Homo sapiens: one gene and its partners. The protein of the gene in region 1 interacts with the protein of each later gene in a pairwise test. Each region holds a gene or a part of one and is shown on either strand. Other genes may lie near its edges. The genes, in order: alpha-crystallin A2 chain, CRYGC, PTTG1IP and SPSB1.

The links.
Region 2: the proteins of alpha-crystallin A2 chain (region 1) and CRYGC interact in binary tests that used the Homo sapiens proteins (3 or more experiments, as listed by UniProt).
Region 3: the proteins of alpha-crystallin A2 chain (region 1) and PTTG1IP interact in binary tests that used the Homo sapiens proteins (3 or more experiments, as listed by UniProt).
Region 4: the proteins of alpha-crystallin A2 chain (region 1) and SPSB1 interact in binary tests that used the Homo sapiens proteins (3 or more experiments, as listed by UniProt).

What each region holds. Positions count from the first base shown.
Region 1 is NC_000021.9:6,501,868-6,509,449, forward strand, and holds part of alpha-crystallin A2 chain, read left to right. Parts: intron 1-4,935; exon of another isoform or gene 4,936-5,522; intron 5,523-7,582. UniProt on the Homo sapiens protein: Contributes to the transparency and refractive index of the lens. In its oxidized form (absence of intramolecular disulfide bond), acts as a chaperone, preventing aggregation of various proteins under a wide range of stress conditions.
Region 2 is NC_000002.12:208,127,462-208,135,017, reverse strand, and holds CRYGC (gamma-crystallin C), read left to right. Parts: upstream 1-5,189; 5' UTR 5,190-5,225; coding exon 5,226-5,234; intron 5,235-5,334; coding exon 5,335-5,577; intron 5,578-6,542; coding exon 6,543-6,815; 3' UTR 6,816-6,881; downstream 6,882-7,556. UniProt on the Homo sapiens protein: Crystallins are the dominant structural components of the vertebrate eye lens.
Region 3 is NC_000021.9:44,870,257-44,878,075, reverse strand, and holds the start of PTTG1IP (pituitary tumor-transforming gene 1 protein-interacting protein isoform 1 precursor), read left to right. Parts: upstream 1-4,385; 5' UTR 4,386-4,459; coding exon 4,460-4,574; intron 4,575-7,819. UniProt on the Homo sapiens protein: May facilitate PTTG1 nuclear translocation.
Region 4 is NC_000001.11:9,288,803-9,296,337, forward strand, and holds the start of SPSB1 (SPRY domain-containing SOCS box protein 1), read left to right. Parts: upstream 1-4,091; 5' UTR 4,092-4,269; intron 4,270-7,535. UniProt on the Homo sapiens protein: Substrate recognition component of a SCF-like ECS (Elongin BC-CUL2/5-SOCS-box protein) E3 ubiquitin-protein ligase complex which mediates the ubiquitination and subsequent proteasomal degradation of target proteins.

The DNA of each region.
Region 1 (7,582 bases):
GGGGCTGGCAGGGGTCTCTGGTAAGGCCAGTCTTGGGATCTGAATCCTCCCAGCTTAGTTGAAGATTGAGACTTACACACTAATAATTTGATAGGGTTAGAACTGAAGCTCCACTGAAAGGTAGGAGTTTCCATTTTTATTCTCTAGAGATTCTGTTGACTGCAGATTTGTGATTTTCACTTCTGTCTGAGGTTTTGCTTGTCTTTTTACAGTTTGCAGCCTTTTCTCTCATTCGAAATTTGGTCAAGGAGAAAGTGTCATCTTTAAAACTGGCCATATTCTGAAACTTGGTTCAACTGACAAATCTAAACATTCTTCTTCTTCTTCTTTTTTTTTTTTTTTTTTTTTTTTTGAGACAGAGTCTCGCTCTGTCGCCCAGGCTGGAGTGCAGTGGCATGATCTCGGCTCACTGCAACCTCTGCCTCCTCAGTTCAGGCAGTTCTCTGCCTCAGCCTTCTAAGTAGCTGGGATTAGAGGCGCCTGCCACCATGCCCTGCTAATTTTTTGTATTTTTAGTAGAGTTGGGGTTTCACCATCTTGGCCAAGCTGATCTTGAACTCCTGACCTCGTGATCCCCCTGCCTCGGCCTTCCAAAGTGCTGGGATTACAGGCGTGAGTCACCGCGCTTGGCCATTTTCTTCTTTAGTGACCAAAATTCCTCCCCTTAGGCATTTTTGGTCATTCAGAAGGAAAATCTAAATTATGGACACTTGTGCTTCTAGAGCAGACATGCATCTGCAGAGACGGCAGCTGGATTCGTGGACAATGCTTATGGTGCCACCTTCTGTCAGTATCTAGAAACATGGTCTCACTTAACCCGTGAAGACCCCAGACTATAATAGCTAAAATGGGGCGCCTTTAAAGTAACTAGTTTATGCACTCAATAGGAAAAATCTGCATCTAAAATTTAAAAACTGAGAGAGCTATTTTTCAATGATACTTAGAAGCTTCTAAAAGAAGTTCTGATGAAGTCATTTCTTTGCAAGAAGAAAACAGAAGATTATCTGAAACTATTTCTTTTGTTTGTTTGTTTTGAGACAGAGTCTTGCTCTGTTACCCAGGCTGGAGTGCATTGGCGTGATCTTGGCTCACTGCAACCTCTGCCTCCCAGGTTCAAACGATTCTTCTGAGCTGGGATTACAGGCATCCCCCACCTTGCCTCGCAATTTTTTTTTTTTTTTTTTTGAGACAGAGTTTCATTCTTGTTGCCCAGGCTAGAGTGCAGTGGCACGATCTCAGCTTGTTGCAACCTCCCCCTCCCGGGTTCAAGCGATTCTTCTGCCTCAGCCTCCCAGTAGCTGGGATTACAGACACCCACCACCATGCCTGGCTAATGTTTTGTGTTTTTAGTAGAGACAGGGTTTCACCATGTAGGCCAGGCTGGTCTCGAACTTCTGATCTCAGGTGATCCACCAGCCTTGGCCTCCCAAAGTGCTGGGATTACAGGTGTGAGCCACCACGCCCAGCCATCCACAGTTCTTTTTAAAATTTAGAAGTAGTTTCAGGCTGGGTGAGGTGGCTCACACCTGTAATCCCAGCACTTTGGGAGGCCAAGGTGGGTGGATCACGAGGTCAGGAGTTCAAGACCAGCCTGGCCAAGATGGTGAAACCTCATCTCTATTAAAAATACAAAAATTAGCCGGGCATGGTGGCGGGCGCCTGTAATCCCAGCTACTTGGGAGGCTGAGGCAGAGAATCACATGAAACCCAGGAAGCGGAGGTTGCAGTGAGCCAAGATGGCGCCACTGTACTCCAGCCTGGGTGACAGAGTGAGACTCTGTCTCAAAACAAAAACAAAAACAAACAAACAAAAAGACCATGGAGGCTTTCTCCTGTTTGTTTCCAGCTGCTGCTTCTCCTTCTGCCTCTGGGATGATCTAAACTCATCTCTTTCTGCCTGTTCCCTCAGCTCCCATACATCTCTTAAGCAGTGTTTTTGGAATTCCACAATGCACACATTTCCTTCTCTCAAAAAGGGGAAAGTATATTTAAATTTGGAACAGACTGGGTGCGGTGGCTCACACCTGTAATCCCAGCACTTTGGGAGGCCAAATTGGGCAGATCACCTGAGGTCAGGAGTTCGAGACCAGCCTGGCCAACAGGGTGAAAACCCGTCTCTACTAAAAATAAAAAAAGATTAGCGGGGAGTGGCTGCGGGCTCCTGTAATCCCAGCTACTTGGGAGACTGAGGCAGGAGAATCACTTGAATCCGGGAGGCAGAGGTCGCAGTGAGCCGAGACGGCGCTATCGCACTCCAGCCTGGGCGACAAGAAGGAAACTGCGTCTCAAAAAAACCCAAAACAACAACAACAACAAAAATAAAAAATAAAAAATAAAAGAAATAGGCCAGAAAAGAAATGTTAGCTCAAGCCTGTAATCCCAACACTTTGGGAGGCCAAGGCTGGTGGATCACATGAGGTCAGGAGTTCAAGACCAGTCTGGCCAACATGGTGAAACCCCATCTCTACTAAAAACACATGTGGTGGCATGTACCTGTATTCCCAGCTACTCGGGAGGCTGAGGCAGGAGAATCGCTTGAACCCAGTAGGTGGAGGTTGCAGTAAGCTGAGATGGTGCCACTGCACTCCAGCCTGGGCGACAGAGCGAGATGCTGCCAAAAAGAAAAAGAAAAAGAGAAAGGAAGGGAGGGAAGGAGGGAGGGAAATTAAAAAAATAAAATGCTAACATCCAGGGAATTAGTTCAGCTGAGATCAGATCTGAAACAAGTCAAAACCCTTTAAATGCTCAAACTGCCTGCTCTGGAGCCCCTGCAGGGTTTGTCAGTGCTCCAGCCTGTGGGCCAGAGGCTATGAGTCTCTACAAACATGAGGCTATGTTTGCAGCCTGGGTTCAATTTCCAGTCCTGTTTTTTTTTTTTTTTTTTGAGACGGAGTCTTGCTGTGTTGCCCATGCTGGAGTGCAGTGGCATGATCTCGGCTCAGTGCAGCCTCCGCCTTCCAGGTTCCAGCAGTTCTCCTGCCTCAGCCTCCCGAGTAGCTGGGATTATAGGTGCCCACCACCACGCCCAGCTAATTTTTTGTATTTTTAGTACAGACAGGGTTTCACCATGTTGGCCAGGCTGGTCTTGAACTCCTGACCTCAGGTGATCTGCCTGCCTCGGCCTCCCAAAGTGCTGGGATTACAGGTGTGAGCCACCGCGCCTGGCCTTCTTTTTTTTTTTTTTTTTTTTTTGAGATGGAGTTTCGCTCTCGTCACCCAGGCTGGAGTGCAATGGCATGGTCTAAGCTCACTGCAACCTCCACCTCTCAGGTTCAGTCAATTCTTCTGCCTCAGCCTCCCAAGTAGGTGGGATTACAGGTGCTCACCACCACGCCTGGCTAATTTTTGTGTTTTTAGTAGAGATGGGGTTTCACCATGTTGGCCAGGCTGGTCTCGAACTCCTGACGTCAAGTGATCCACCCACCTCAGCTTCCCAAAGTGCTGGGATTACAGGTGTGAGCAGCAAGATTTCTTTTTCTGAGCTGTCTTTAGAGTGGTTCTGACGCTTAGGAAGACTGCTTTGCATTTCTTTGGAGATGCTTGGTTCAGCCTTGGTTAAGTCATGACCTTCGTTATGCCATTACCTTGGTTAAATCTTTGTTTTTGAGATGGAGTCTCGCTGTGTCACCCAAGCTGGAGTGCAGTGGTGCGATCTTGGCTCACTGCAACCTCTGTCTCCTGGGTTGAAGCAATTCTCCTGCCTTAGCCTCCCGAGTAGCTGGGATGACAGGTGCATGCCACCACACCTGGCTAATTTACCTTGGTTAAGTCTCACTGGTTTTGTGAGTAACTTGAAAATGTCCATTTCGTTTTTTTTTTTGAGATGGAGTTTCGCTCTCATTGCCCAGGCTGGAGTGTAAGGGATGGCCTGATCTCGGCTCACTGCAACTTCGGCCTGCCAGGTTCAAGCGGTCCTCCTGCCTCAGCCTCCCAAGTAGCTGGGATTACATGCATGCACCACCACACCTGGCTAATTTTGTATTTTTAGTAGAGACAAAGTTTCACCATGTTGGCCAGGCTGGTCTTGAACTCCTGATCTCAGGTGATCCACCCACCTTGGCCTCCCAAAGTGCTGGGATTACAGACATGAGCCACCGCACCCGGCCAAGTTTTTTCTTTTTTTATATGTAATAAGTTGGATAAAGTGTTTATAAAAAGTTAAAAGTAGGCCCTCAAGCAGGTAAAGTAGGCTTGCTTCTTTTCAGAGCTATCCATGCTGATTCCAGGCATAGAGAATGCCTCCTTTGCCCTATTCATTAAAGGGCTTCACCCTGAAGTCAGTAATCTAATAGAGAAACAAGCTAAGTTGAAAAGACCCTGTGATGGTTAATATTAGCTGTCAACCTGATTGGATTGAAGGATGGTAAAGTATTGTTCTTGGGTGTGTTGTGAGGGTGTTGCCAGAGGAAATTGACATTGGAGTCAGTGGACTGAGAGAGGAAGACCCACCCTCAGTGTGGGTGGGCACCATCCGATTGGCTGACAGTGTGGCTGGAACAAAGCAGGTGGAGGAGGGTGGGAGAAGCTGGCTTGCTGAGTCTTCTGGCTTTTGTAGCCACCCAGTGAGTTCACCTAGCCGGCTGCCTAGATGGAGCGGATTTATCAGGACAGGGGAATTGCAATGCAGAACGAGTAATTTACACAGAGCTAGCTGTGCGGGCGACTGGAGTTTTATTATTACTCAAATTAGACATCCCAAGAATTTGCAGATCAGAGTTTTTAAAGATAATTTGGCGGCTCAGGAAGTAGGAGTGCTGATTGATCTGGCTGGAGATGGAATCACAGGGAGGTCAAAGTGAGGTTTCCTTGCTGTCTTCTGTTCCTGGGTACAATGGCAGAACTGGCTGAGCCAGATAGCCGGTCTGTGTGGTATCAGCTGATCCATAGAGTACAGGGTCTTGCAGAATAAATACCTCAAGCACTGATCTTCGGATTACAATGGTGATGTTATCCCCAGGAGCAATTTCGGGAGGTTTGGACAGCCAGAGGCTGGATGACCTTTAAATCAAAATTTCTTTTTTTTTTTTTCAAAGAAGCCCCATTTTATTACAGAGAGCATACAAAGCCGTTTCCTCATAAGGAAAAGTACAGCTTCCCTTCTCCAGGGTGACAGATGAGCCTTTTCTGAAGTTCTCAGCTTTCTCTTCTATCGATATTTCCCATGTCAGTTAAAGTGTTTGTAGAGACAGCTGATGCGTTTATTGAGGTTGTGCAGCTCATCAGCAAACATTCTGTTTCCAACCATTTTCTTCTTTAGCATACAGCGTTGCAATTCATTCCCCTTCCAATCTCGAAGCCATATGGGGTCCCTGATCAGCTTTTGGGGTGCTTTTCAAAGTTTCCCAGGATCCTGATGTTGTCATACACTCTGAACATGGCCATCCTTTCGTTCCAAGGATCAACTACTTTGGGGGGTAGGAGCCTTATACCAATCAATCTAGGAATACCAAGAAAGAAGCTTCTGCATGCCACACCTAGTCCCACAGGCGCCTACCTGCCCTACATAAGAGGCTCCCTGCCATTTCTCTAGTCTGCCCCTTCAACAGCACACCAAATAAGCCCAAGAATGAGGACCAGATGTGGCCTTCAAGAAGACAACAGGAACCGTCCCTGTCGACTTCACACGGGTACTAACGTGAAGGCAGCCACCTTGGGCCTTAAAATTTCTAATCTTGTAGCTAATTTGTTACTCCTACAAAGGCAGACTGGTTCCTAGGCAAGAAGGGGATCTTTCTGGGAAATGGCTATTATCAATTTTGTTTCAGAGTCAAACTATAAGCTAAATTCCTTCCCAAGGTTAGTTGGCCTGTGCCCAGGCATGAACAAAGACAGCCTAAAGGTTAGAAGCAAGATGGAGTCAGGTAGGTCTGATCTCTTTCACTGTCATCATTTCCTCAGTTGTAATTTTTGCAGAGGCAGTTTCACTTTCATCTTTCTCCTGTGCTGGATGCCTCCTCCGTTCCCCCTGCCCTTGGACATCAGACTCCAGGTTCTTTGGCCTTTGGACTCTTGGACTTAAGCCAGTGGTTTGCTTGGGACTCTCGGGCCTTCAGCCACAGATTGAAGCCTGCACTGTTGGCTTCCCTACTTTTGAGGCTTTTGGACTCCGACTGAGCCACTCCTGGCTTCCTTCTTCTGCAGCTTGCAGACGGTGTATCATGGGACTTCACCCTGTGATGGTGTGAACTAGTTCTCCCTAATATACTCCCTTTCATATATATGTCTATTCTGTTAGTTCTGCCCCTCTGGAGAACCCTAACTAATGCAGACCCTTGTGTAACTTTGATATCCAAAATATGGCTTTCTAGCATTTAGCTGGCTATTTTGAAACTCTTTGTAAAAAAAATTTATATATATGAAGGAAATCTCCATTTGTAAGGGTGTCTCCCTCCCTGCACCCAAACTGCTAGAAACTGAAGATGGGGAAGACATTGGCTGAAGACACTGTCTTACAGTTTACATCACAGACCTTGCCTTCGGTGGAAATACTTTTCCTGGCAACCTCGTCTTCACTAGGTGTAGGGACCAGCCCCACAGGATCGGTGGGTTTTTCTCCCCATGTGCAGAGACGAGAGATTGTAGAAATAAAGACACAAGACAAAGAGATAAAAGGAAAGACAGGTGGGCCTGGGGGACCACTAACACCAAGATGCGGAGACCGGTAATGGCCCCGAATGTCTGGCTGCGTTGTTATTTATTGGATACAAAGCAAAAGGGGCAGGGTAAAGAGTGTGAGTCATCTCCAATGATAGGTAGGGTCACGTGGGTCACGTGTCCACTGGACAGGGGGCCCTTCCCTGCCTGGCAGCCAAGGCAGAGAGGGGGAGAGAGAGAGACAGCTTGCGCCATTATTTCTGCATATCAGAGACTTTTAGTACTTTCACTAATTTGCTACTGCTATCTAGAAGGCAGAGCCAGGTGTACAGGATGGAACACGAAGGCGGACTAGGAGTGTGACCACTGAAGCACAGCGTCACAGGGAGATGGTATGCCTTCGGATAACTGAAGGTGGGCCTGAGGCCCTCCACAAGAGATGGAGGAGTAGAGTCTTCTCTGAACTCCCGTGGGGAAAGGGAGACTCCCTTTCCCGGTCTGCTAAGTAGCCGGTGTTTTTCCTTGACACTGACGCTACTGCTAGACCATGGTCCGCTTGACAACAGGCGTCTTCCCAGACGCTGGCGTTACCGCTAGACCAAGGAGCCCTCTGGTGGCCCTGTCCGGGCATAACAGAAGGCTCGCATGCTTGTCTTCTGGTCACTTCTCACTATGTCCCCTCAGCTCCTGTGTCTGTATGGCCTGGTTTTTCCTAGGTTATGATTGTAGAGCGAGGATTATTGTAATATTGGAATAAAGAGTAATTGCTACAAACTAATGATTAATGATTTTCATATATAATCATGTCTATGATCTAGATCTAGTATAACTCTTGTTGTTTTATATATTTTATTATACTGGAAAAGCTCGTGCCCTCGGTCTCTTGCCTCGGCACGTAGGTGGTTTGCCGCCCACAACTAGGCTTTTACCTACACCCTTCTTCCTTGGTTTGAATTCAGCTCTGTGCTTTTGAGATGTGAATTTTTTC
Region 2 (7,556 bases), on another chromosome or scaffold:
TCCCCTTTCTACTTGTGGCCCCTAGCAGCCTGCAAGTAGGAAGATGACTAGAGAGTAGATTGGACAAGCTAATCTCAATTCTTCTAGAAGCATGAAGGGACCAGTTCCCTGGGGTGAGGGCAGAGTTTGCTGTATTTTATTTAGATAGACTTCTCAAAACCAGGGCAATAAGCCCTTCAGGAAGGGCTTGCTGAGGGGGTGCCGACTGGCAAAGCACCACACAAAAACCCCAGCATGATGCCTTTCCCATGTCCTCGAGGGAACTCTTGGCCTTCGCTTTAGAATTCCCCAGTGAATTTTATATTAATTTGTAGAATTGCCTTTTTATTTGCAAGGGTACTATTTTTTCCCATTTTTTAAAATTAAAATTGCAATCATATAAAAAAGAGATGCATGACTGCATAGGATACCACCGTATATTAATTGCTAAGAAGCAGGAAGGTGGGTGGTAAAATCAACTGCTGGCTGGACCTCAGACACCAGCAAAACTCTAGAATTGGCTACCGCTGTTGTAACATTAATTTCTCATCTCAGAAGAAATAAAAATTAGAATTACTAAGGAGTGGGAGGACTTAGGGCACAACACAGCATTCCTGGTTTTTCCCTTTTGCTTATTATCTCCACTGTTATAAAGGCCCATTATGGCTGGGTGTGGTGGCTAACACCTGTAATTCCAGCACTTTGGGAGGCCGAGGTGGGCAGATCCCCTGAGGTCAGGAGTTCAAGACCAGCCTGGCCAACATGGTGAAACCCTGACTCTACTAAAGGTACAAAAATTAGCTGGGCGTGGTGGCAGGCGCCTGTAATCCCAGCTACTCGGGAGGCTGAGGCAGGAGAATCTCTTGAACCCAGGAGGCAGAGGTTGCAGTGAGCCAAGATCGCACCACTGCACTCCAGCCTGGGTGACAAGAGCAAGATTTCATCTCAAAAAAAAAAAAAGAAGGCCTGGCACAGTGGCTCACTCTTGTAATCCCAGCACTTTGGGAGGCCGAGGCGGGCGGATCACAAGGTCAGGAGATCGAGACCATGGTGAAACCTCGTCTCTACTAAAAATACAAAAAATTAGCCGGGCGTGGTGGCGGGCGCCTGTAGTCCCAGCTACTCGGAGAGGCTGAGGCAGGAGAATGGCGTGAACCCTGGAGGCGGAGCTTGCAGTGAACTGAGATTGCGCCACTGCACTCCAGCCTGGGCGACACAGCGAGACTCCGCCTCAAAAAAAAAAAAAAAAGCCCCATTAAATCGATCAAGTGCAGGGTGCCTGTGTCATCCTACACACCGAAAGTTGCACATCCTGAACTTCAATGTGAGTGTGTTATGCCTGTGTATATTGAACATTTGAAACAGGCTCCATAGACCATTATAATAATAAATTTCAGACAAGGAATAACATTCACACATCCCCCCTCCCGGGCATTTATTGAGTAACCTTTATGTGCCAGTCCTCTAAGCCAATTAGTGAGAACACAAAAATAAAGATGGAATAGACTCTGCCTTTATGGGGCTCTCCCATCTATTTTGAGGGACTGATGTCTAAACAAAATAATTAGATAAGTGATAGTTACCCTTATAGTGGTATGAACATGAGGAGCCACGGAGGCAGTATTTAATTCAGCCCAGAAGATTAGGAAGGGTTCAGGAAAATCTTTTACAGACAAACTGACGCTTGAGCTGAGACTTGAAGAAAGGGTAAAATTTCTCTGGTTGAAAAATAAACTGGTGTCTCATTGAGAAGGATCAATATGTTGAAAAACAAGAACAACATGAAATAACATTGTGCATTTGGGAAATGACAAGCGGTTCGGCGTGATCAATCAGAAAGCGTGGGGACAGACAGCGGAGGCCAGGTCTAGGATGCCGCGCTAAGGGATCAATATTGGATCCTGGAGACAATGGGAGTCCATGAAATTTTTCAAGCAAATGAACAGCATGATTTGATGTGTTTTGATTCTCATCACTCCAGCATCTGTCTGAGTGCAGCTTGGAGGAAGACAACACTGGGCAGAGTCAGGAGGCTGTTGAAAGTCCAGCTGAGATATGATAAGACCCTATGTAAGGCAGCTACAATGGCAGGGGTTTGGGGGTGGGAGGTGGTTGGGGCAGAGGAGAGAAGGAGAAAGATTTGAAAAAAGGTTAGAGAAATACAAGACTACGCCATTATGGAACAAGAGCGATGTTCTGTAATATGCACTTTCTGGCCCCTTTATTGCTTTTCCTGTCTTCTTACCAGTGCTCTAATTTAAGTGCTGGTATCTCTGCTCCGATTCTCTCACTGTGTACATATGAAACTTTATAGAACAAGAAAGAGTGCTGGCCAGGCGCGGTGACTCATGCCTGTAATCCTAGCACTTTGGGAGGCCGAGGTGGGCAGATCACGAGGTCAGGAGATCGAGACCATCCTGGCTAACACGGTGAAACCCTGTCCCTACTAAAAATACAAAAAAAAAAAAAAAATTAACCAGGCGTGGTGGTGGGCGCCTGCAGTCCCAGCTACTCAGGAGGCTGAGGCAGGAGAACTGCTTGAACCCAGGAGGCGGAGGTTGCAGTGAGCTGAGATCACGCCATGGCACTCCAGCCTGGGCGACAGAGCGAGACTCCGTCTCAAAAAAAAAAAAAAAGAGTGCTACAAAACAGAGAGCACATCTGCCTTTAAGTCTAACGAGAATGTTAGGCAGGGCACAGTGACTCACGCCTGTCATCCCAGCACTTTGGGAGGCAGAGGAAAATGGATTGCTTGAGGAGATCAAGACCAGACTGGGCGACATAGTGAGACCCTGTCTCTACATAAAGAAAATACAAAACATTAGCTGGGCATGGTGGCATGCACCTGCAGTCCCAGCTACTCAAGAGACTGAGGTGGGAGCTTGAGCTTGAGCGTGGGAGGCAGAAACTGCAGTGAGCTGAGATTGTGTCCCTGCACTCTAGCCTGGACAACAGAGCAGAACTCTATCTCAAAAAATAAATAAATAGAATTAAGAGAATGCTAGTACAATTCCTAATAAGGCATTGCCTAGGGATGGCTAAAATACATGATTTCCTTGTCAAAACATGAAGGGATAAACCACAGCAGTGTTTTGGCCCAAGAACTATTTGGTGCTTATTAAAAATGTAGGTTCTGGGCTGGGCGTGGTGGCTCATGCCTGTAATCCCAGCACTTTGGGAGACCGAGGTGAGTGGATCACCTGAGGTCAGAAATTCGAGACCATCATGGCCAACATAGCAAAACCCTGTCTCCAATAAAAATACAAAAATTAGCCGGGCATGGTGACCCGCGCCTATAATCTCAGCTACTCAGGAAGCTGAGACAGAAGAATCACTTGAACCCGGGAGGCAGAGGTTGCAGTGAGCTGAGATCGCACCACTGCACTCCAGCCTGGGTAACAGAGCAAGGCTCCATCTCAAAAAATAAAATAAAATAAATAAAATAAAAAATAAAAATGTAGGTTCTGAGGTCTTCTCCTGATCTAATGATGCAGGATTTAGCCAAAAGATCAAGATGGTAATTTGCATTTTTAATAAGCAAGGTGATTCTTAGGCACACTGGAGTTTGAAAACCACCCGATGGTTTCGAAAGTCCCTTCCAAGCCTAATTTTTCTTTAATCACAAAATGGCTTCATAGAGGATAAATTTTTTCAGGAATCTTTGAGAGGATTAAATATCTTTGAGAGGGATAAACAGGATGAAGTCAGCCTTAACAATGTCACTCTATTACTAATAACAACATTTATTCAGTGTTCATTTGTGCCAAGTATGTGCCAAATGCCTTATACACATAATCCCACTTATTCATGTCAATGTCCTTTAGCTAAAGACCACCAGGGACACACCTGTCTTTAAACAAGTTGAGCTTATTACTTGTTGCAGCAAGGGAGGACATGCTCCTTGGGGAAGCATGGAGTGTCTCAGTAAGAGAGCTTAGAAAGAAATTGTTATAGGATTTGCACTTCAGTTGTGCGATTTGGGGAAGGAGCTAAAAAAGTTGGAGTTCACTCCAGATTAGATGTTAGCAGAAAGCAGGGTTAATTTTGTGATTAGTTATCTCAAGAAATCTTACCCGTAGGGAGGGGAGACTAGAACACGGATAAACCTGTAATCCATAAAGAAGTGGCAGTTAATCATTTTGGCTGAGAGAGTGAGGGCTTGGGATTTTGAGAGTGGAGCATTGACTTTGTTTTTGTCTGCGCTTAGGCAAAGTTAAGAAGTGGATTTATTTTATCTCATTTCATCCTGGTCTCGGAGTAGCCTTGTCTGAAGTTGTTATTCTGTGAGACTGTTTATGTCTAATAGCGGAGTAACATGTCCTCACTGCGAGTGCCACGCCAGCATCTGAATGTCAGAGGCTACTCTTTTTTCTCACTTTTTTTCTCATTAATCAGACTATAGTCCATGAGATAACTCCTGCTCTGAGTGGTTATATAATTTGCCATGGAGCTAATCAGTGGGCCTTCTGAGTACAGGCGGCCTGAGTCCAAAGCTCACACTCTTGCCCGTGAAGCTTTATGGCCTCCCTCACGCTTGAAAAAGGGAAAGCAATCTATAAAGTAGTATACGGTACTTCTCAGTCTTGGGCCCAGTGACCATAGAAACCTTTCCCTTGCTTGTTATCGTAAGTTCACTACCAGGGACTGATCTCTAGTTAGACGACGTGCCCACGAAAGGCATAGTTAAAAGCTGTCTTAAAGCATTGGGTTAACGAAGTCAAAACTAGCCAAGATAAGAATCTAGATTTGTGTCCGGCCCTGGACTGGAAAATTGTGTAAAGACAAAAATGTAAGGTAGAGCAGTCTCTGCCATCCAGGGAAATGAGTCAGTGCTTGTGGCATTCTACCTCAGCAACCTCTCTGGAATCCTGGAGCAATTCTATAATGGCATAGATCTTTCCCAGAAAATTCACAGGGAATAATTCAATCATATAGACAGAGCCACGAATTTCAGGTCAAAAGTTCAGACTGATGCACAGATAAATTTAGAAAACACTAACAATCCAAATAAAAGCAACACAGAGCAGTATGTACAGGACAGCGTTAGAATATACCAGAGAACAAGGACACAATCTACAATCATTTCCAGTGAATGCAGGATGTTAAAGAGATGCATAAAATCCCCTTACCGCTGAGGGCCCCTTTTGTGTTGTTCTTGCCAACGCAGCAGCCATCCTGCTATATAGACTGGCTGTGCAGCCGCAGGCCCCATCACACTGAACTCGCATCATCCGTGTCAACCAGCCATGGGGAAGGTGAGCAGAACACAAATTAAATAAAATGAAAAAAAAGTTGCCTTTATATAATGCCTGTTAGGAGCAAATAATGTAATTCGGAACGATTCTTCCTTTGCAGATCACCTTCTATGAGGACAGGGCCTTCCAGGGCCGCAGCTACGAAACCACCACTGACTGCCCCAACCTGCAGCCGTATTTCAGCCGCTGCAACTCCATCCGGGTGGAGAGCGGCTGCTGGATGCTCTATGAGCGTCCCAACTACCAAGGTCAACAATACTTGCTGCGGCGAGGGGAGTACCCCGACTACCAGCAATGGATGGGCCTCAGCGACTCCATCCGCTCCTGTTGTCTCATCCCCCAAGTGAGTTTTCTAGATTTCCATCATGCCGCCAGAGTCCCCACTGTATTGTCAATGTGGGTTACAGGGAGGGAGGTTTGCATTTAAAAACACCTAAGGGTTAGATGGACATCAGAGACCTGAATAAGCCAGATAGATAACATGCACAAAAACAGCAGAGAATGTAAGGAAGAACCCACTTAGAGGAAGAATCCGTTTTACTTGAAATTTTTGCTACCAATAAGTCAATTAAAAGAGGTCTGTAACAAATGTAATATCATAATGGGATATAAAACAAAACTTGCAAATGGGAAGCTGGTTGGGCATAAAAAGACGGTATTTTTAACAAATTATTTTGTCTATAGTAAAAGAATTTCTAATGAATGAATTAGATAGATTCCACCATGGACTAGTAAACCTTCAAAGCTGTATTGTTAATATAGGCTATTCAAAGGTTGTGTCCAACTTTGGAAAAGGTAATTTTTCTTAATTTGGAAAATCAGTTAAATTCTCATTCCAAATGACTATTTAACTTTACACTGAAGTACAAGATTTTTTAAATCTTACTTTAGTGGTAAATTTATATGTTTGTAAATTTGGGAGATAATACCCTTACTAAAAGAATACTAGTGAAAATAAATTATTTCTATTTTTCCCCCCAAATGTAGTTTGAATTAACACAGGTAATTAGGAATCAAGATATCTCAGTTCTTGATGGATTCTAACTCAGAGTTTGAACCTCTTAAAAATTCCATCTCCTAAATAAGAATGAATTTCAGGTCAAATAGAAAATGAGCGTGCCAGTATTTAGGTGCTAGTGGAAGACAGATCCATGCGCAGCAACCACAGTAATCTACATTTTACACTGTCTAAATTTTACAATGACAATTCCATGCCACAACCTACCAAGTTCATCTGTTCTTTGGTTGGACAAATTCTGGAAGAGACTCATTTGCTTTTTTCCATCCTTCTTTCTGTGGACCGAGTAGACAGTCTCCCACAGGCTGCGGCTGTACGAGAGGGAAGACCACAAAGGCCTCATGATGGAGCTGAGTGAAGACTGCCCCAGCATCCAGGACCGCTTCCACCTCAGCGAGATCCGTTCCCTCCACGTGCTGGAGGGCTGCTGGGTCCTCTACGAGCTGCCCAACTACCGGGGGCGGCAATACCTGCTGAGGCCCCAAGAGTACAGGCGGTGCCAGGACTGGGGGGCCATGGATGCTAAGGCAGGCTCTTTGCGGAGAGTGGTGGATTTGTATTAAAATAGCTTAACACTACCAATTTCCCATTTTGGAACCTAATAAATATTTAGTCTGCATTGCTGGCAATTGCTGACTTCTGTCATTCTTTCATTGTGCAAATCAGTTCACCTTTAAATGCTCCTTGTCAAAAGTTAAGAAGTGAATGGGGTGGGGGACGGGGTCTATTGGAGAAGAGCTTCAAGGTAGAGTGAGTTTGAACAAGCCTCAGACGTTGGGGTGGAGGCAGGGTGTAGCCTGCCCGAGAAAGAAAACGCAGGGCAATGCCAGAGACCTGGGAGAGGCTGACTGGTGAGAAGGGAGGCATTCAACTAAGCACCTTGAGGAACAATAGTTGGGAAGTTTCCTTCTAACCAAAAATGGGTTAGACAAAAGGCAAAGTCAGATGAGTGGAGAGGGCAAACTTAACTTGGCCAACAGCCTGATTAGACTATATAAAGGATTGTAGTTTTGTTTACTTTCAGACACAGTATTATATAACTAATGCCAGGGCCACCGCAGCCATTGCCGTACCTTTGAACAAAGTTAAAGACTATTCATCTTCTTTTGAAAATGACTCCTGTCCAGAAGTGTAGCTCTTGGTCGGTACTACCCCTGGCCCAAATGCTGTGTCAATTATAGAAACTGCACATCAGTTTCATGGTGACCAGCTATTGCAAATAAATTAATATTAAGAGATACACATCAATCTTTTAAATAGATTTTCATGGTATAGTGTACCCCAAACATAAAAAATAACTACAA
Region 3 (7,819 bases), about 38 Mb from region 1:
ATCTGTGATGAGCACCCCTTCTGCAGAAAGTAAAAATGGCCTTGCTGAGAGAATTAAATTTATGTTCGAGTGCTGTGTCTTTGCAGCACTTGGGAACAAGCATTCTGTTTCTAAATAACAATTTTTACATATAACAGTGTTTTAGGAACCCCTAAAGCATCTCCACCACTTTCATGTATTATACAAATAATAGAATGGAAGGTTATAATTTGTATGCCCCAAAGGCGGAGCATTAGCAAGGTCACGTTTGATCATTTCAAATGTTGGTGTATTTTCTTCTGACCACTCTAAAGTCCTGGCATGTCCTGTTTTTAGAGAGCGTATAAGGACTGAGCTTTAAAGAAAAGTTTGGGATCCAATTTCTATAATATCCTGCCAGTCCTCCACATCCTTTTGTTTCTTGGTTGTTGGTGGTGGAAAGCTAAAATTCCTTTCAGTCTATCTAGATTAGTAGAAAGTCTTTCTTTAGATATTAAGTGGCCCAAGTACTTTGTTTTTTATAAAATTGAGGTTTTTCTTTAGGAATTTTATGTCCCTTTAGGGCTGTTGTAATGAATGTATCCCATCTTCTATAAAAGCTTTGCTTATCTTCTGAGCAAAGGAGTAAACTGCCCATGTATTGTAATAAAAAATTTTTTTTAAGAACAAGTCAAAAGACTGGGCCCAGTGCCTCGCGCCTGTAATTCCAACACTCTGGGAGGTTGCAGTGGGCGGATCACCTGGGGTTCAGAGTTTGAGACCAGCCTGACCAACATGGAGAAACTCCATCTCTACTAAAAATACGAAATTAGCCAGGCATGGTGGCGCATGCCTGTAATCTCAGCTACTCGGGAGACTGAGGTGGGAGAATTGCTTGAACCCGGGAGGCAGAGGTTGCAGTGAGCCGAGGTAGCGCCATTGCACTCCAGCCTGGACAACAAGAGCGAAACTCCGTCAAAAAAAAAAAAAAAAGAACAAGTCAGTATGTAAGACAACTGTCTTTGCATCAGTTGGACTCTCAGTGTAGCCCTGAGCATGGCTGTCTGTGTGTATTGTCTGCCTTCCCAAGTAAAGGTAAAGAGAAATCAACACTTTCACACACAGAACTACTGAAGGATGTGCTAATAAGTCCACTACACTAAAGGACTTTGATCGGGGTAGCCAAGAGGATTCTTCCAGTATCAGTGGAAGACTCTGACCATATTTGATCAAGTACTGCCTTTAGTAGGTTTTGTAATTCTTCATTATTCAATAATTCAGTGTCTTCTAGGGCAATTAGGGATCGCAATTGGGTTAGATTTTGAAACTTTTTTTATGTCTAGTAACTCAGCTTTCTCATCTAATTCTAAATACGTCTTCCCCCTTTGGGAGAAAGAAACGTGGATATTGTAATTCTAAGAAGTCTCCTTTTATAAGATGGCTGGCAGCTGATAGAACCAGAAGGAAAATGTGAGTCCCTTGTAAAGGACCTAGTTGAAAAGCTATAGGCTGAGATTTACGTGCCGTTACAGGCGTATTAGTGACACCTACCCTTTGAACTTTTTTTTGACTCCAAGGAATGGAACCTTGTAACAAGATGGGATTTATTACAGAAAACACGGCTGCTCTATCAGCAAAAGCTTATGTCAGCAATGGGAACTCGTGTTAACTATTTTAAATAATTTTTATGGCCAGGCGTGGTGGCTCACGCCTGTAATCCCAGCACTTTGGGAGGCTGAGGCAGGTGGATCACAAGGTCAGGAGTTCAAGACCAACCTGGCCAATATGGTGAAACCCCATTTCTACTAAAAATACAAAAATTAGCCGGGCGTGGTGGTGCGTGCCTGTGGTCTCAGCTGCTCGGGAGGCTGAGGCAGAGGAGTCGCTTGAACCTGGGAGGCGGAGGTTGCAGTGAGCCAAGATTGAGCCATTGCACTCCAGCCTGCGCAACAGAGCGAGACTCCGTCTCAAAAAAAAAAAAATTATTTTTCCCAAAGTAGAGGCAGGGTCACACACTCGGGTATTTAAATTCTCTGGGAAAACCAGTGGGGTCCTGGTGAGCATCAGGAAATTCCTTGATTATACTTTTAAGTTCTACCTTTGACCATAACTCATGAACTAGGGCACATAGTTGTCCCCTATGAGAGACACTGGCTGTTTGAGCAATGGCCCCAAAACAGGAGGAGGAGGAGGAAGAAAGGTGGGTCTGGGCGAGGTAATTCAGACAACAAAGGATAAAGAGAAGGAGCTGAGGGAGGAGGGGGAGAAATTTCAGTAGTCTTTTTTAAATTCAGAAATTATTTTAGATAATTTTTGTTTTTCTCTCATAAATACCTTTATTAGAACTTCTTTTGGATGCTTCCAACTACCATAAAAAATAACTCTCCCAAAGATTCCGTTTTATCCTAGAGCCAGCGTTTTCCAATTGAGCAAACAAGTAAATTACCTTGGTGTTCCAATGGTACCCGGCTTTGGTCACTGAAATGTTTTTTCTCAAGTTACGTGAGACCATTTTTCTAAATATAACGAGAGGTGGCACCATAAGCACTGCACAGGAAACCAGCTGGAGTTTCCAAAGATGGGTCCTCCCTGAAGGAGAAAGACTTGTTTTGGATGGACGATTGCCTATGAGTTCTCTTAAGTGACAAAAGACTGTAAGGGAAAATCTGGTTACTCAAGAAGAAAGTTTAGACATGTCAAATTGAACTCAGCTCCAGAGCCTGGCCAGTTTTAAGGATTACAAATTTTGCTTAAGCCACGATTCGCTGCTTCTTTTCAAAGAGAAACTGCTTTCCCCTTCTCCAAATCTGAAGGACAAAAAAGGTTGCAAACTTTAGCAAGACGAACAAAACCTTAACCTCGAAGGATAGTGTTAACCACACACCTGCAAACAGCTGACTCTTTGGAGAAATAACAAACGAAACTCTTGCCTTAAAACCAAGCCTCAACTCCAGCCCTATCAGGTGTGGACCTGGGTAGGCGGAACAGAGTCTGAACCTCAGCCCTGGGAGGCTGCCAGAGACCCCGGCCAGGTTCCCAGGCGGTCCGGTGAACCAAGGCCGCTCCGCGGGTGCCAGCGCTCCGAGTGCCAGAGAAGTGGCTCGGATCACAAGAGGCTGGCTTCGGAGCCATCTGCAGGCGCCCAAATCCCAACCTAAAATCACCACAGGGTCAGAATCTAATGTAAGGGGGGGTTATTCAAAGGCAGTTGGAGGCTGGCCCACCCGGAAACACCGGCTCCAGAGGAATGGAGTCCGCCCTCGGAAGCGGGGAGGGGAAGGGTGCCCTCGGGCAGGCAGAGGCGGAGGCTTTTAGCAGGACCGCGGCGTCCTTCCTACGAGGTGGGCGCAGTCCTCGCGTTTGATGGACGACGGGCAGTGCCTGCTTCAGGGAAGGGTGCGGCAGTCACGGTTTCCCGTCTTCTGGTCTAAGCAGTGCAGAAAACAGGGAAGTTCATCTACAAGGGTCATGAACTAAGAAGGCAGGAGGTTTCTGTCCCCGGCACCGGCGAATCCCGGACCCGAGAAAGGAGCTACGGGCGCACAGAAGCGGGCGGCCCCGGCTCTCGCGGGGCTTAAAGCGCGCAGTGTGTTCGGGTTCACACCTCTAAATGTATTTTTGCCATTTCTTAAGTAGCCTTAAAAATGTCCGTCACTATTTAGTCCTTTTATCAACCGAGGGGCCCGGAAGGCCGCAGCGAGGGCGTCGGCGAGAAGCCATGGAGGAGAAACGGCGCTTCTCTCGGGAGTTTAGGTGGCAGCTTCAGCAGCACACGTTTCAGCCCATTCTGGGGCCGTTTCTAGTGTGGTTAACGTACAAAAATAAACAAATCCCCTAAAAGTCCCACGCGGACATCGGCGGGAGCCCAGGGCCGGACGCCGCGGTGTGGAGCGAGGGCGCCGGCGCGGACTATGAGGGCCCACCGCGCCTCGTCCAGGGCTCACTTAAGAGCAGCGTGAGCAGCGCTTGGGACCGCCGTCCGGGACGCCCGCAGCCCTTTAGGATGGAGGCCACCGTGACCTCCGCCACCGAAGCACCGCGCTCCCCTAGTCCCCTCAGCCGGTCGCCGTTCCCCGCCGCGCAGGCGCAGGAGCCGCGGCGAGCCCCTCGGTCACGCCTCGCCCCTCGGTCACGCCTCGCCCCTCGGTCACGCCTCGCCCCTCGGTCACGCCTCGCCCCTCGGTCACGCCTCGCCCCTCGGTCACGCCTCGCCCATCCGCGCCGCGCAGGCGCACTGAGCCTCAGCCGCTCTCCTCGCTACCAGGCTCCTTTCCTCTATCGCGCAGGCGCACTGAACCTCAGCCGCGCCGGGAGGCGAGCCCGTTGGCGAGGGGCGGGGCAGATGGCGAGGGAGCGGGGCGAGCTGCTTTTTGAGGCTGCGCACTCGCATGGCCCCACCTCGCAGGTCCACTTCCGGCGCCGCGGCTGTTCCGGGCGGAGACCGCTTGTGCTGGAGTCGGAGTTGTAACGCTCCACTGACTGATAGAGCGACCGGCCGACCATGGCGCCCGGAGTGGCCCGCGGGCCGACGCCGTACTGGAGGTTGCGCCTCGGTGGCGCCGCGCTGCTCCTGCTGCTCATCCCGGTGGCCGCCGCGCAGGAGCCTCCCGGAGCTGGTGAGGGCGCCGGGGCGGGCGGGGCCGCGAAGGGGGCGGGGCGGCTGGTGGGTCCAGGTCGGGGTCGGGGTCGGGGTTTCGGCCAGGGCGCTGGGCTCGGCGGGCGGCCTGGGCCCACGGTCGCAGGCAGCGCCCCGACGGAGGCTCCTCGAGGGTCACGCCCGTTTGGCGGCCGCGGGAGCTGCCGTCGCGGCTGGGGCGCGGGCAGGGGAAGAGCCGTCTTTGTCTTTGTCTTTGTTTTGTCCAGTCGCTGCGGCCGCTCCTCGCGCGTGGCCTCGGGTTGGCCCTCGCCCGGCAGGCGGGACGCTTGGCACCTGCGGCCTCCCTTAGCCTCACTGCGACCCCAAACAGCACTCCTCGGGTTCGATCCCGAGCCGGGAAGCCGGCTCACGACGTGTTCGAGGTCGCACAGCTGGTCGGGGGCAGGCCGGGATGGCGGCCGCAGGCCCCTGCAGGGTGATGGGGCCGCGGCCGGTGTGTCTCTACAGCCGCCGGCGTTCACGCCGCCACTCCCTCCCGGCCGCAGTTCCACGCACAGCAGCGAACGCTCGCACTTATGCCTTAGAAAGGAAGGCGTCCCCAAAGCCAGGCTGTAGCATCTGATTTTGAAGCAAGCTGATTGCGGTTCTACGCTGTCCAGACGCGCAGGTGGCATTCTTCATCGTTTATCCCGTCTGCACCAGGCCCTGCGGCCACAGTGGTGACCGACAGCCAGAGCTCCTATCCAAGAGGAGCTGAGTCCCCGGGAGGCTGACCAAGAAAGAAGCAGTGAGGGCGCGGGGGCTGGGGGAGGAAAGTGCATGACAGGAGACTCAGAGTTCCAGAAACCGGCAGTGTTTATAGAGGGTGGCTTCCTGTGGGGCTGGGCCTCCAGGGCCTGGTGGGCTGCGGGAAAATCCAGCAGGTTCTAAGCTGGAGAGTGTCATGGTTGGACCTGTTTCACAATGTCATGCTGGCTTCCGTGTGTGGAGTTTCCAGGTGACCACTAGTGGTGGGGAATAGTGCCACCTTAACTTCAGTTTCCTGACCCTTACAATTAGGGTTGACCTGGGCCCAGCTTGAGGGGCTAATACTTTTCTCAGCTCTTGTTAGCCCAGGCTCTGTCAGTGTCTGTTTAGCATAGTAGAGCACCTTTTCTTTTTGTGACCTTATGGAATGTTTATTCCGATGCAGGATTATTTGTGTTTCTTCTTACCTGCCTCCAAGTGTGCTTAGGGTTTGTGACGTTAGCAATGCAGCTGCCTTGAAGTTTGTTAGTCAAGGAGGCCAGTGGGACTGTACTGGGAACTTTTGGCCCAGATTGAGTTCTAAGCGCAAATGTGCAGTGAATACGTTTCCACAAACAGAATGGGCGTCTGCAGGCAGAGTGTGTGATTCACTGGCAACTGTATCAGTGGCTCGGGGGTGTGTTTGCTTGCATTGTGAAAGCGGGAGTGTCAGGAAAACAACCATGAGGTTTTGTTTGACTGTGATTCCTCCTGCTCTGCACTGCTGAAGGGTGCAGAGATGGGTGTGGACGAGTGGAGTGGACAGTGTGGGAATTAATCCGGAACTGCCATTCGGTGTGTCAGCTGAAAAGCCATTCGGTGTGTCTGCACTTGGAGGCTGCACTTGCTTGCTTCCACTTATGGTAATCACCAAGTCCTGGTGGGTGGACTGTTGTTTCTCTCACTGGGGACCCCTTGGAATAGGAAGAATGGTGCCGTGTCATGTTGGCATTCACTGCCCAGGCGCCTTTGGTGTCTGCGTGCCCCTTGTCCTTGGAGAGAGGGGCTATTTATAGCCTGGAGAACTCCCCTCTTCCCACAGAGTACTTGCTTGGTGTGAGATTTTTACTGCTTGTCATGGTTACAGGAATGTGACCGCAGTACTGATGTTTAAAACGTTTTGTCTCCTTTACAAGGACACTGTGTGAATTTAGAGAATACATTATACCAATCCAAATCCAACACTTTTAAGCATCTTTTTATGTGTTTTGATGGAGGAGAGACATTAAGAACCCATGGTGTATTGAAGATCTTTAGAGCAAGATTCTTGAAGTTAAACCTGGATAGGGCTTTTGGACCCCACTTTATTTGTGTATGGGGTCAGACTCAATCCAAGAGCTTCATCTGGAGGAAAGACGACCCCAAAAAGGAGCTCAGACTGCTGTGTGAGGGCTGGCGCAGTGGTGGCCAGTGCAGGTCCCCGAGGTGGTGGGTCCCACTCAGCTGCTCCTTACAGTGGGGACTCCTGATGTGGAGTTCTGCCCCTGTCACCCTGAGAAACGTGGCTTTCTAACTGTACAGAGTGCTACAGTGTACATAGGGTTCACAGTGTTGATACATACTCCTAGTCTTCAACTCTTTCTTTTGAAATAGTGGAGTTTCCAAGAACATTTTTTTGTCTCCATATCTGCCCTCTTTTCTCACCTGGAATTGACAATGTAGTTGTTCTCCATGCCTCTGTCACAGTGCAGAGTGGGCACCATGCCCGTTTGGCTGCTCGTTCTGCTGATGAGCATGGAGACTGCAGCCTGTGGCCTGCGGTGTGACAGGAGCATGACAAGGAAATACGTACACTTGCTGGTGTGTTCCTTTGTCCTTAGTGTGTTTATTGACTCACCTGAAACTTCAGGAAAGCACTCAAATGGGTCATGGAGGGTTGGTGTATCCTGACAGAAGAAAACGTTATTTGTTGTTGTTGTTTTTTCCTTTAATTTCGGAAACAAATGAGACTGAAAGGTCTTTAAAAATTGATAAATGGAGTCTAAGTTGAAGCCTTGCAGTCATAGGACCCAGAAGTCAGGGCAGTCACATTCAGTGTTAGACTTAAGCAACACAAGGGCAGTTTTTATCTCTGGTTTTCTAGCACATGTTTTTTCTGTATCTTGTGATGAGATAAGAGATAGTGATCACTTAGAGAAATAAACACTGCTTGTCTTTGAAGCAGTAACAAATGATTCATGCCTTTCTTTTTTTTTTTTTTTTTTTTTTTGAGATGGAGTCTTGCCCTGTTGCCCAGGCTGGAGTGCAGTGGCGTGATGTCAGGTCACTGCAACCTCCGCCTCCCAGGTTCAAGTGATTCTCCTGCCTCAGGGATTACAGGCGCATGCTATCACACCCGGCTAATTTTCGTATTTTTAGTAGAAATGGGGTTTCTCCATGTCGGCCAGGCCGGTCTCGAACTCCTGACCTCAGGTGATCTGCCCACCTCGGCCTCCCAAAGTTTTGGGATTACAGGCGTGAGCCACTGCACCCGGCCTT
Region 4 (7,535 bases), on another chromosome or scaffold:
TTCACTTTGATTGTTTAATGGAGTTTTACTACATTAATACTATTAAAATTAATTAATTATATTATAATGTATATTCAAGATGTCCCATGGATAGAAATAAACTGAAATACTGTTAAAAGCAACTGGTGAAGATTTAAGATAGGCACCAATATCACAGTCTGCTGTTACTTCACTGTGTTTTTGAAGAACTTTGCAATAGTTATTGTCCCAAACCCAATATCATCTCTTTATTATTTTTTTCTCAAAGTCATAGGAACTCTTTCCAAGCCTGTTTATCATCTAATGTCTCATTTAAATCTCCCCAAAACTTTGCTCTTAGTCTTTTCCTTTATTCGTGATTAACAAAGTCTGATAGAGCTATAGTGCAATATCATGCTTTGCCAGCAGGCGTCGCTGTCTGACAAGATGTGATCCAGTGTGAGCACTACAGTAATTTATGACCAAATGATCTACAAAATGAATCAATGTACTAAATTAGGGAATATTATGAGATCAAAATTCTGCGAGAAGTCAGCTGTGATGGCTCATGCCTATAATCCCAGTACTTCGGGAGGCCACGGCAAGAAGATCACTTGAGCCCAGAAGTTCAAGACCAGCCTGGGCAACATGGTAAGACCCTGCCTCTATTTTTTTTTTTTAATTAACATATAAACACTCTACTTCTGTTTTGCATCATGAGATAAGTACACATCTTATGCTAAGGATGCATAATAGATGTAGATTTTATTAATATGCTTCAGTGTTCTTCATGTTCTGGTGGATCTTGCTACAATTCTGTGTTGTGGATACCAAGCTTTTCTTTAAAAAAAAAACCTATTATCTTGAAAATTCTCAAAATCCTTGATTTCATTCTAGCACAATTAATTGTGTTCAGTTAATGTTGGTTGAATGATTGCACCACCTCCCCAGTTTCTGGGGAAATGTGTAGAGCAGTTCTACAGATGAGAACAGGAAATCTCAGAAAGGTTAAGTAACTTGCTCAAGGTCACACAGCTGATGAATAGCAGAGCTGGGGGTTGCATTGGGTTTGTCTATTACCAAATCCTTTGCACATTTGCTCCAATCAGCAAAAGGGATTCAGAGAAGATGGCAGCCTTTAACACTTGTGAGGGCAGCAGGATTCTGTGCTAAGAGCTCAAGGCTCAGAACCATCATCAGAAAAAGCAGCTGATGCTAATTCACCATCTATCAAGTTTCTCTTCACCATTTCCCGGAGACAGATTAAAGACATGAGCAAATTGTGCTGATGCAAGTGATAAAATGTGTGTGGGGGTGGGGTGGAGTTGGGGAGGGGGTTGGGGATGACACCACTGGGAGCCCAGAGCCACCTCCCTCCCGACTCACCCCTGCAGTACACAGATCTTTGTATAAGTCCTGAGTCACCCTTCAAATTTTTGGATAGTATCTATCAGCTTATGTCACAATGTTGCAAGATTATGTATCTTTTTTTAACAAACAATAGTATCAGCATGCTAGGGTGATTCTGAGCCCTTCTGACACATAAACTGGCTTCCAGGATTGCTCAACATTGCCCCATGCTGCAGCAGTCACTGCCGGCTGACCAGCCTTCCATCATCCGGCCAACCTGCCCAGCGTCCTGGAGGAGAGAAGGCCCACTCCCCAGGGGTTCTTCTGGGAAATTTAGGTCAGCAGGGTCTAATTATTCAACTGGATCAAGAGCTGAGATTTCCAGATTAACGCCGAAGGGGGGTGGGGTGGGGGTGCTGAAGACTTTTCATCAGGAACTGTCTTTCAGGGCCTTAAACATCAAAGCTGGGTCTCTAGCTCCAAAGTGCCCCAGTCTGCCCTGGAAGCTTCCCAGATGTTAAGAGGTGAGGCTTGGTGGAGTTCCTCTTAGCAAAGCTGACAACACCATGGCCCCAGGCCACGTGGCCGTAGCACCAGCCCCATGAGATGCCAGTGTCTGGTAGATGCCACACACACAGTGAATAATCCACCAAACAGGGCTACTCTCCCAAGGAGAAATGAACCCATCAGAGGCAGCTGTGATTTTCAGCAATGACTGACGTGGGCTGCACCCCATGGGCCTGTCCCAGAGGCTCTCACCAGTCTCCCAAGTAAACAACAGTTCTCAAACTGCAGAGTGGCTGGAGGGGGTCATATGCTCTTTTAAAATTATTATTACCTTTTTTTTCTTTTTTTTTGAGATGGAGTCTCGCTCTGTTGCCCAGGCTGGAGTGCAGTGGTGCGATGTCGGCTCACTGCAACCTCTGCCTCCTGGGTTCAAGAGATTCTCCTGCCTCAGCCTCCCGAGTAGCTGGGATCGCAGGCACGTACCACCACACCCAGCTAATTTTTGCATTTTCAGTAGAGATGGAGTGTTGCCATGTTGGCCAGGCTGGTCCTGAACTTCTTTTTTTTTTTTTTTTTTTTTTTTTGTGAGACGGAGTCTCGCTCTGTCACCTGGGCTGGAGTGCAGTGGCGCAATCTCGGCTCACTGCAATCTCTGCCTCCCGGGTTCACACCATTCTCCTGCCTCAGCCTCCCAAGTAGCTGGGACTTACAGATGCCCGCCACCACGCCTGGCTAATTTTTTATATTTGTAGTAGTGACGGGTTTCATCGTGTTAGCCAGGATGGTCTCCATCTCCTGACCTCGTGATCCGCCCGCCTCGACCTCCCAAAGTGCTGGGATTACAGGTGTGAGCCACCAAGCCCAGCCTGGTCCTGAACTTCTGACCTCAGGTGATCCACCTGCCTCAGCCTCCCAAAGCGCTGGGATTACAGGTGTGAGCCATCATGCCCGGCCAATTATTATTATTATTATTTAATTTTTGTGCAGAGTCTGTGTCTTGCTCTGTTGCCCGGGCTGCTCTTGAACTCCTGGGCTTAAGTGATCTGCCTGCCTCAGCCACCCAAAGTGTGGGGATTAAGGGCGTGAGAGCCACCACCTCCAGCCTCAAGTGATCTTTTAAATGGGAAGCACCCCTAAGCTGCTGGCCATGGCTGCCCACCTGACTAGTCTGGGTTCAACATTCCTAAACCGCTGGCACCTGGAAAGTCAGAATGCCCACTCAGGCCCGCCCAGCCCAGGGCAGTTGGTTGAGTCTCCGTAATCCTATTCTGAGTTCAAACAAAGCTAAACCAAACTGATTTTCAGCACCGTAAAATGAGAGACATCAAACTTTGTAATCTCACAGTTCAATTGGGTTCCAAGCTCTGGACAGCTGGCCTCGGGCCAGGCACTGTTTCCTCGCCTTTACAGTGAGTGTGTCATTAGTCCCACCCTCACTGTACTGGGTTATGGTAAAGACACAGTAACTACGGAAGCCCCGCTATTTGTTTCGGCTCCCCCAGAAAGGCTAACTCCTCACCGTTTTCAATGGACACTACACAGCGAGGGGTGGGGAATGCCAGGAGATTTTGCTCTCAAAACAGCAAAGTCTTTAAAATCTTCCCAGTCCCAAGTGACTGCTCTGTTCGGGGAAGGGGGAGGAAAATTCCTTGAACGAGCTAGAGCCACAGGACAAGTCCCCAGAGGCTGGGACCTGTTCAGGGAGCAGCCCTGCGGATGCCAGGTGCCCGCGCCCTCAGGGTCTCGAGGTCCGAGGCCCCCGTCCCCGTGGGCACCGAAACGCGAGCGGCCGAAACAGCGCTGCAGGAGGCTCCCTGGACCCCCGGCGGCTGCCCACTCGTCCCCGCTGGGCACTTCAGAGGAGGCCGGCGAGGCCTTGCTCGGGGTTCCTGGGACAACCCCACTCTCCGCGAAGATTTCTCCTTCTCGTAAGACCCCCGCCCCCACTCCAGCCTCCCACGGCTGCAACCCAGGCCCTGCGCCACGCGTTTCCCAAAGACGCCTCCGGAGGGACCCGAGCTTCGGGCCGGCAACACCAGGGCGGCGGCTCGGGAGAGGGCTGCGGACTAAGGGGGCGGAGGGGGCGGCCGAACCAGCGCCGGGCTGACGCGCCCCGCGCCCCGCGCCCCGCGCCCCCGGCCTTCCCTGCAGTGCTGAGTGGTCCGTGCGCCCGAGGTCGGGGGCGGGGCGGGGCGGGGCGGGGCAGGGACGGCCCCGCCCACCGGCGCTTTTCTCTTTTTTTTCACTTTAAAGCCGTCGGTTGCTTTTTCTCCTCCGCACAGAAGTCGCGCTCGGGCAGCCTGCGCGCTCGCAGCAGGAACCAGGCTCCAGGCGCCGGCGCCGGGGCCGGGGCCGCGGGGAGGAGGCGACTTCGCTCCCTGCGGCGGGCGCGGCCCGGGCGCCCGAGCCTCCTCGGCCTTGGAGAGCAGCGGCGGCGGCGGCACCCCGGGCGCGGTAGGCGGCGCGGGGCACCTGGGACCCCGATGGGTGGGCGACCGGCCCGGGAGGGGGAGGCGCGGGGGGCCGGGCGAGGGCGGACGCGGGGATCGCGCCGCTGGGGGACCGAGTGGGTGGCGCGGGGCCGGGCGCGGGGGAGCGGGTGGAGTACGGGATGGGGACTCGGGGCGCGGCCCCTCCCGCGGTGGCTCCGGGGGCGCCTCCCTCGCCGCGGCTCCTGGGAGAGGGGCCCAGGCCCGCCCCGCGCTGCCGCCGCTGCAGGGCAGGGGGTCCCGGGGCGAGGCGCGGCGGGGGTCTCGGGGCGCGGGGACCGTCGCAACGAGTTGCGGTCCCGAGGAGGGGCTGGGGCGCTCCGGGGCCGCCGACCCGTCCCCCCTTTAGCCCGGGGAAAGCGGGACCCCGCTCGGCTGAGTTAGTTTCGCTTTTCCCGCCAGTCCGAGTCGGGATTGGCGGCGCGGCCCGGTCCCCCGTCGGGGCGCCCCCACCCTCCCGCAGCGCCTCCCCCAGGGAGCCTGCCGGGGACACCCGAGCGCCGCCCTCCCCGCCGCCCCGGAGCCGCCGCGGCTTCTCCCAGCAGCGGAGGGAGAGCCGGAGGGTTGTCAGGAAATCGATTAAATCAGAAAAACAAGGGCGGCCTGGGCCCGCGGGAGGAACCGCGGATGGGTCACCGTCCCCGGGCGTGTACTGGGCTCGGTGGCGTCCAGGTTCCGGTGAGGACGGGACGGCCCCGAGAGGAGGGTGCGGGTCTGCAGGAAGAGCGGGTGTCTCTGAGAGTGCATCTGCGTGTGTGTTTGTGCATGTCCTTGTGAATATGTGCCTGCGTATGAGTGTGTCTGTGTGTTCATGTGGGTGTGTGTGTGAGTGTGTCTCTAAGTGCATCTGTGTATTTATGTGCCTCTGAGTGTGTGTGTGAGTCTGTGTGTCTGTCAATGTGTGCCTGAGACTCTAAGTGACTGTGTGTGTGTGTGTGTGTCTGAGTGCGTCTTTGTGTATTTGTGTGTGCCTCTCTGTGTATGTCTGTGTGTCTTTGTGTGTGTCTGTGTGTGAGTGTGTATGTGTCTTTGGGTGTGTGTCTCTGCAAGTTTGTGTCTCTGAGTGTCTGTCTCTGCAAATGTGTGTCTCTGTGTCTTTGTGTCTGTGTGTGTCTTTGCGTGTGTGTGTCTTTGTGTCTCTTTGTGTGTCCACACGTGTCTCTGTGTCTGTCTCTGTGTCTGTGTCTCTGAGTGCGTCTGTGTATGTGTGAGTGTCTGTGTGTCTCCAAGTGTGTGTCTGTGTGTCTTTGTGTGTGTTTCTCTGTGAGTGTGTGTGGGGACCATCCAGGGGGCCCTCTGGTTCCTAGGTACTGCTCCTCATGGTGATTTCTTTACTTGGTTCTGGATAGCCGGGCATGCTGGGCCACAGACACCCCACTAGGCAAGCCCTGCTGGTGCCCCCGAGGAGAGCGCAGGCTCTTCCTCTCTCCATTTCTCTGAAAATGAACTACACAGTTTGGGGGTGAGTTGGCAGGGGCTGCTTCCTGAGTGAGTAATATTTAATTAAACACTCCAGTCTGTAGCATCAGAAACTGGTCATGAGTTGAGTTTTAACAGGTGTTCATGGTAAAAGCGCCATCCCTGGTGACTAAGGTTTGATGTCCTTGGAAGAATTTTCTCGTTGGGGGGGCTGGGCCCACAACTTCATTTCTCATCGTGGGGTGTGAGGAGAACAGCAAGCAAGGAAGGGGATGGGGGCCTCTCCCTTCTGCCCTGTCCCCCTCCTCAGACCCCCCTCCCAGTGGTGGAAAGCCCTGGGCTAAGCATGGGCAGCACAGGTGGTCTCTCCACACTGAGGAATTTTGGAGTCAGGGAAGTCCTGTCTTACTGTCTAGGCCAGCCTGTCCTAGAGAGGCCCAGAGAGGGCGGTTCACTTACCCAGACTGCACAGCCAGGGCTGTGGACCAAGACTCCCCAGTCCTGAAACTGTTGCTCTTGGTTACTGTCCCCAGCACTGAGGTCATGGGCCAGGCACTTCGTGTCTCCCCAGCTGTGAAGTGATGGGCTGGATTAGATCATTTAAAGCACTCCTGCTCTCTTACAGCTGCTTTTCTTCTGCAGGGAGCACTTTACCCAGTAGATGGAGTGTGTGTGTGTGTGTGAGAGTGTGAGTGTGTGTGTGTGTGTGTGTGTGTGCGCGCGTGCGGTTGGGGAGGTGTGGAGTGGACTAAGGCAATCACTTTACAAGTCTTCCTTTTCCAGTCTGGCTACCACCCTAGCAGCAGAGAAAACAAAAGCAGTAGCATGTTGGCCCCAGTGGCTCAGACAGCCCCGAGCAGGGAGCAAGGCGGGTGCCATGCCGGCTTAAGAGAGACCTGGCCCTGGGAAGAATCAGTGGGTTTCAGGGCTCTTAGGAAGGGGTGGGCCTGCCTGGGGCCCTGGTGATGTCACTTTGGAGCTGGGTGAGGCCGTTTCTTGGGCTGCTGTAGTAAGGCTGGATCCACCCTTCAGTGGGTCCCTCTGGGCTGCTGCAGAATCTCACCCCCTTGGAATCATCACAGATGTTGAATTTCTTCACCAGAGCTGGGGAATGGGGTGGGGGCCTAGCCCGTGGAAGCCAGCGCTGCCCTCCCACCCCCATGGTGTGTGCCGTGCTCCCTTCCTGCACCTGCCCCTCCTCCTGGGTGGATGGAAACTTGCCTGCAGACGCATTTTCAAATTCAGCGAAACCTCTGATTCTTACGGTGTTCATGAGTTCGTCTGGGCATTTTGTATCAATTTTTCTCGAGAAATAGGTTGTAGCTGGTGTGCATGACTCAGTGTATCTTTTGGTTCTGAAAAATTTTATCAGACGACAGCACAAGGTCAGGTACAGGTGTGCCTCAGTCTGCCCAGGGGTGTGTTATCCTCTCCCCAGCCCTCAACACTAGATCAGTGAAATCCAGACTCTAAGGGACTTCGATTTTGGACTTTCAGTGAGTGCTCTCCCCTCCCCCAGTTATCTGATAACATCTCCCCCAGTCTAAAGTTCCACTGGCAGCCAGGTGCCCGGCTCTGTGCTACAGAGTGCTTTATGGACGTGACTTTGTTTGAATCCTAAGCATAATAATAGCGGGAAATGGTTTCATGGTTTCACGGTGCGTGCGAGTACTGGCTCTGATCTGAGTCCTTGACGCATTGACTCATGGGCTTCCTGAGGACCCTGAGAAGTGGGTTTTGCCTCCATGTCCATTCTGCTGAGGATTGCAGGTAACTTGGCTAAGGTCTCGCGGCAAGGGAATGGTGGAGCCA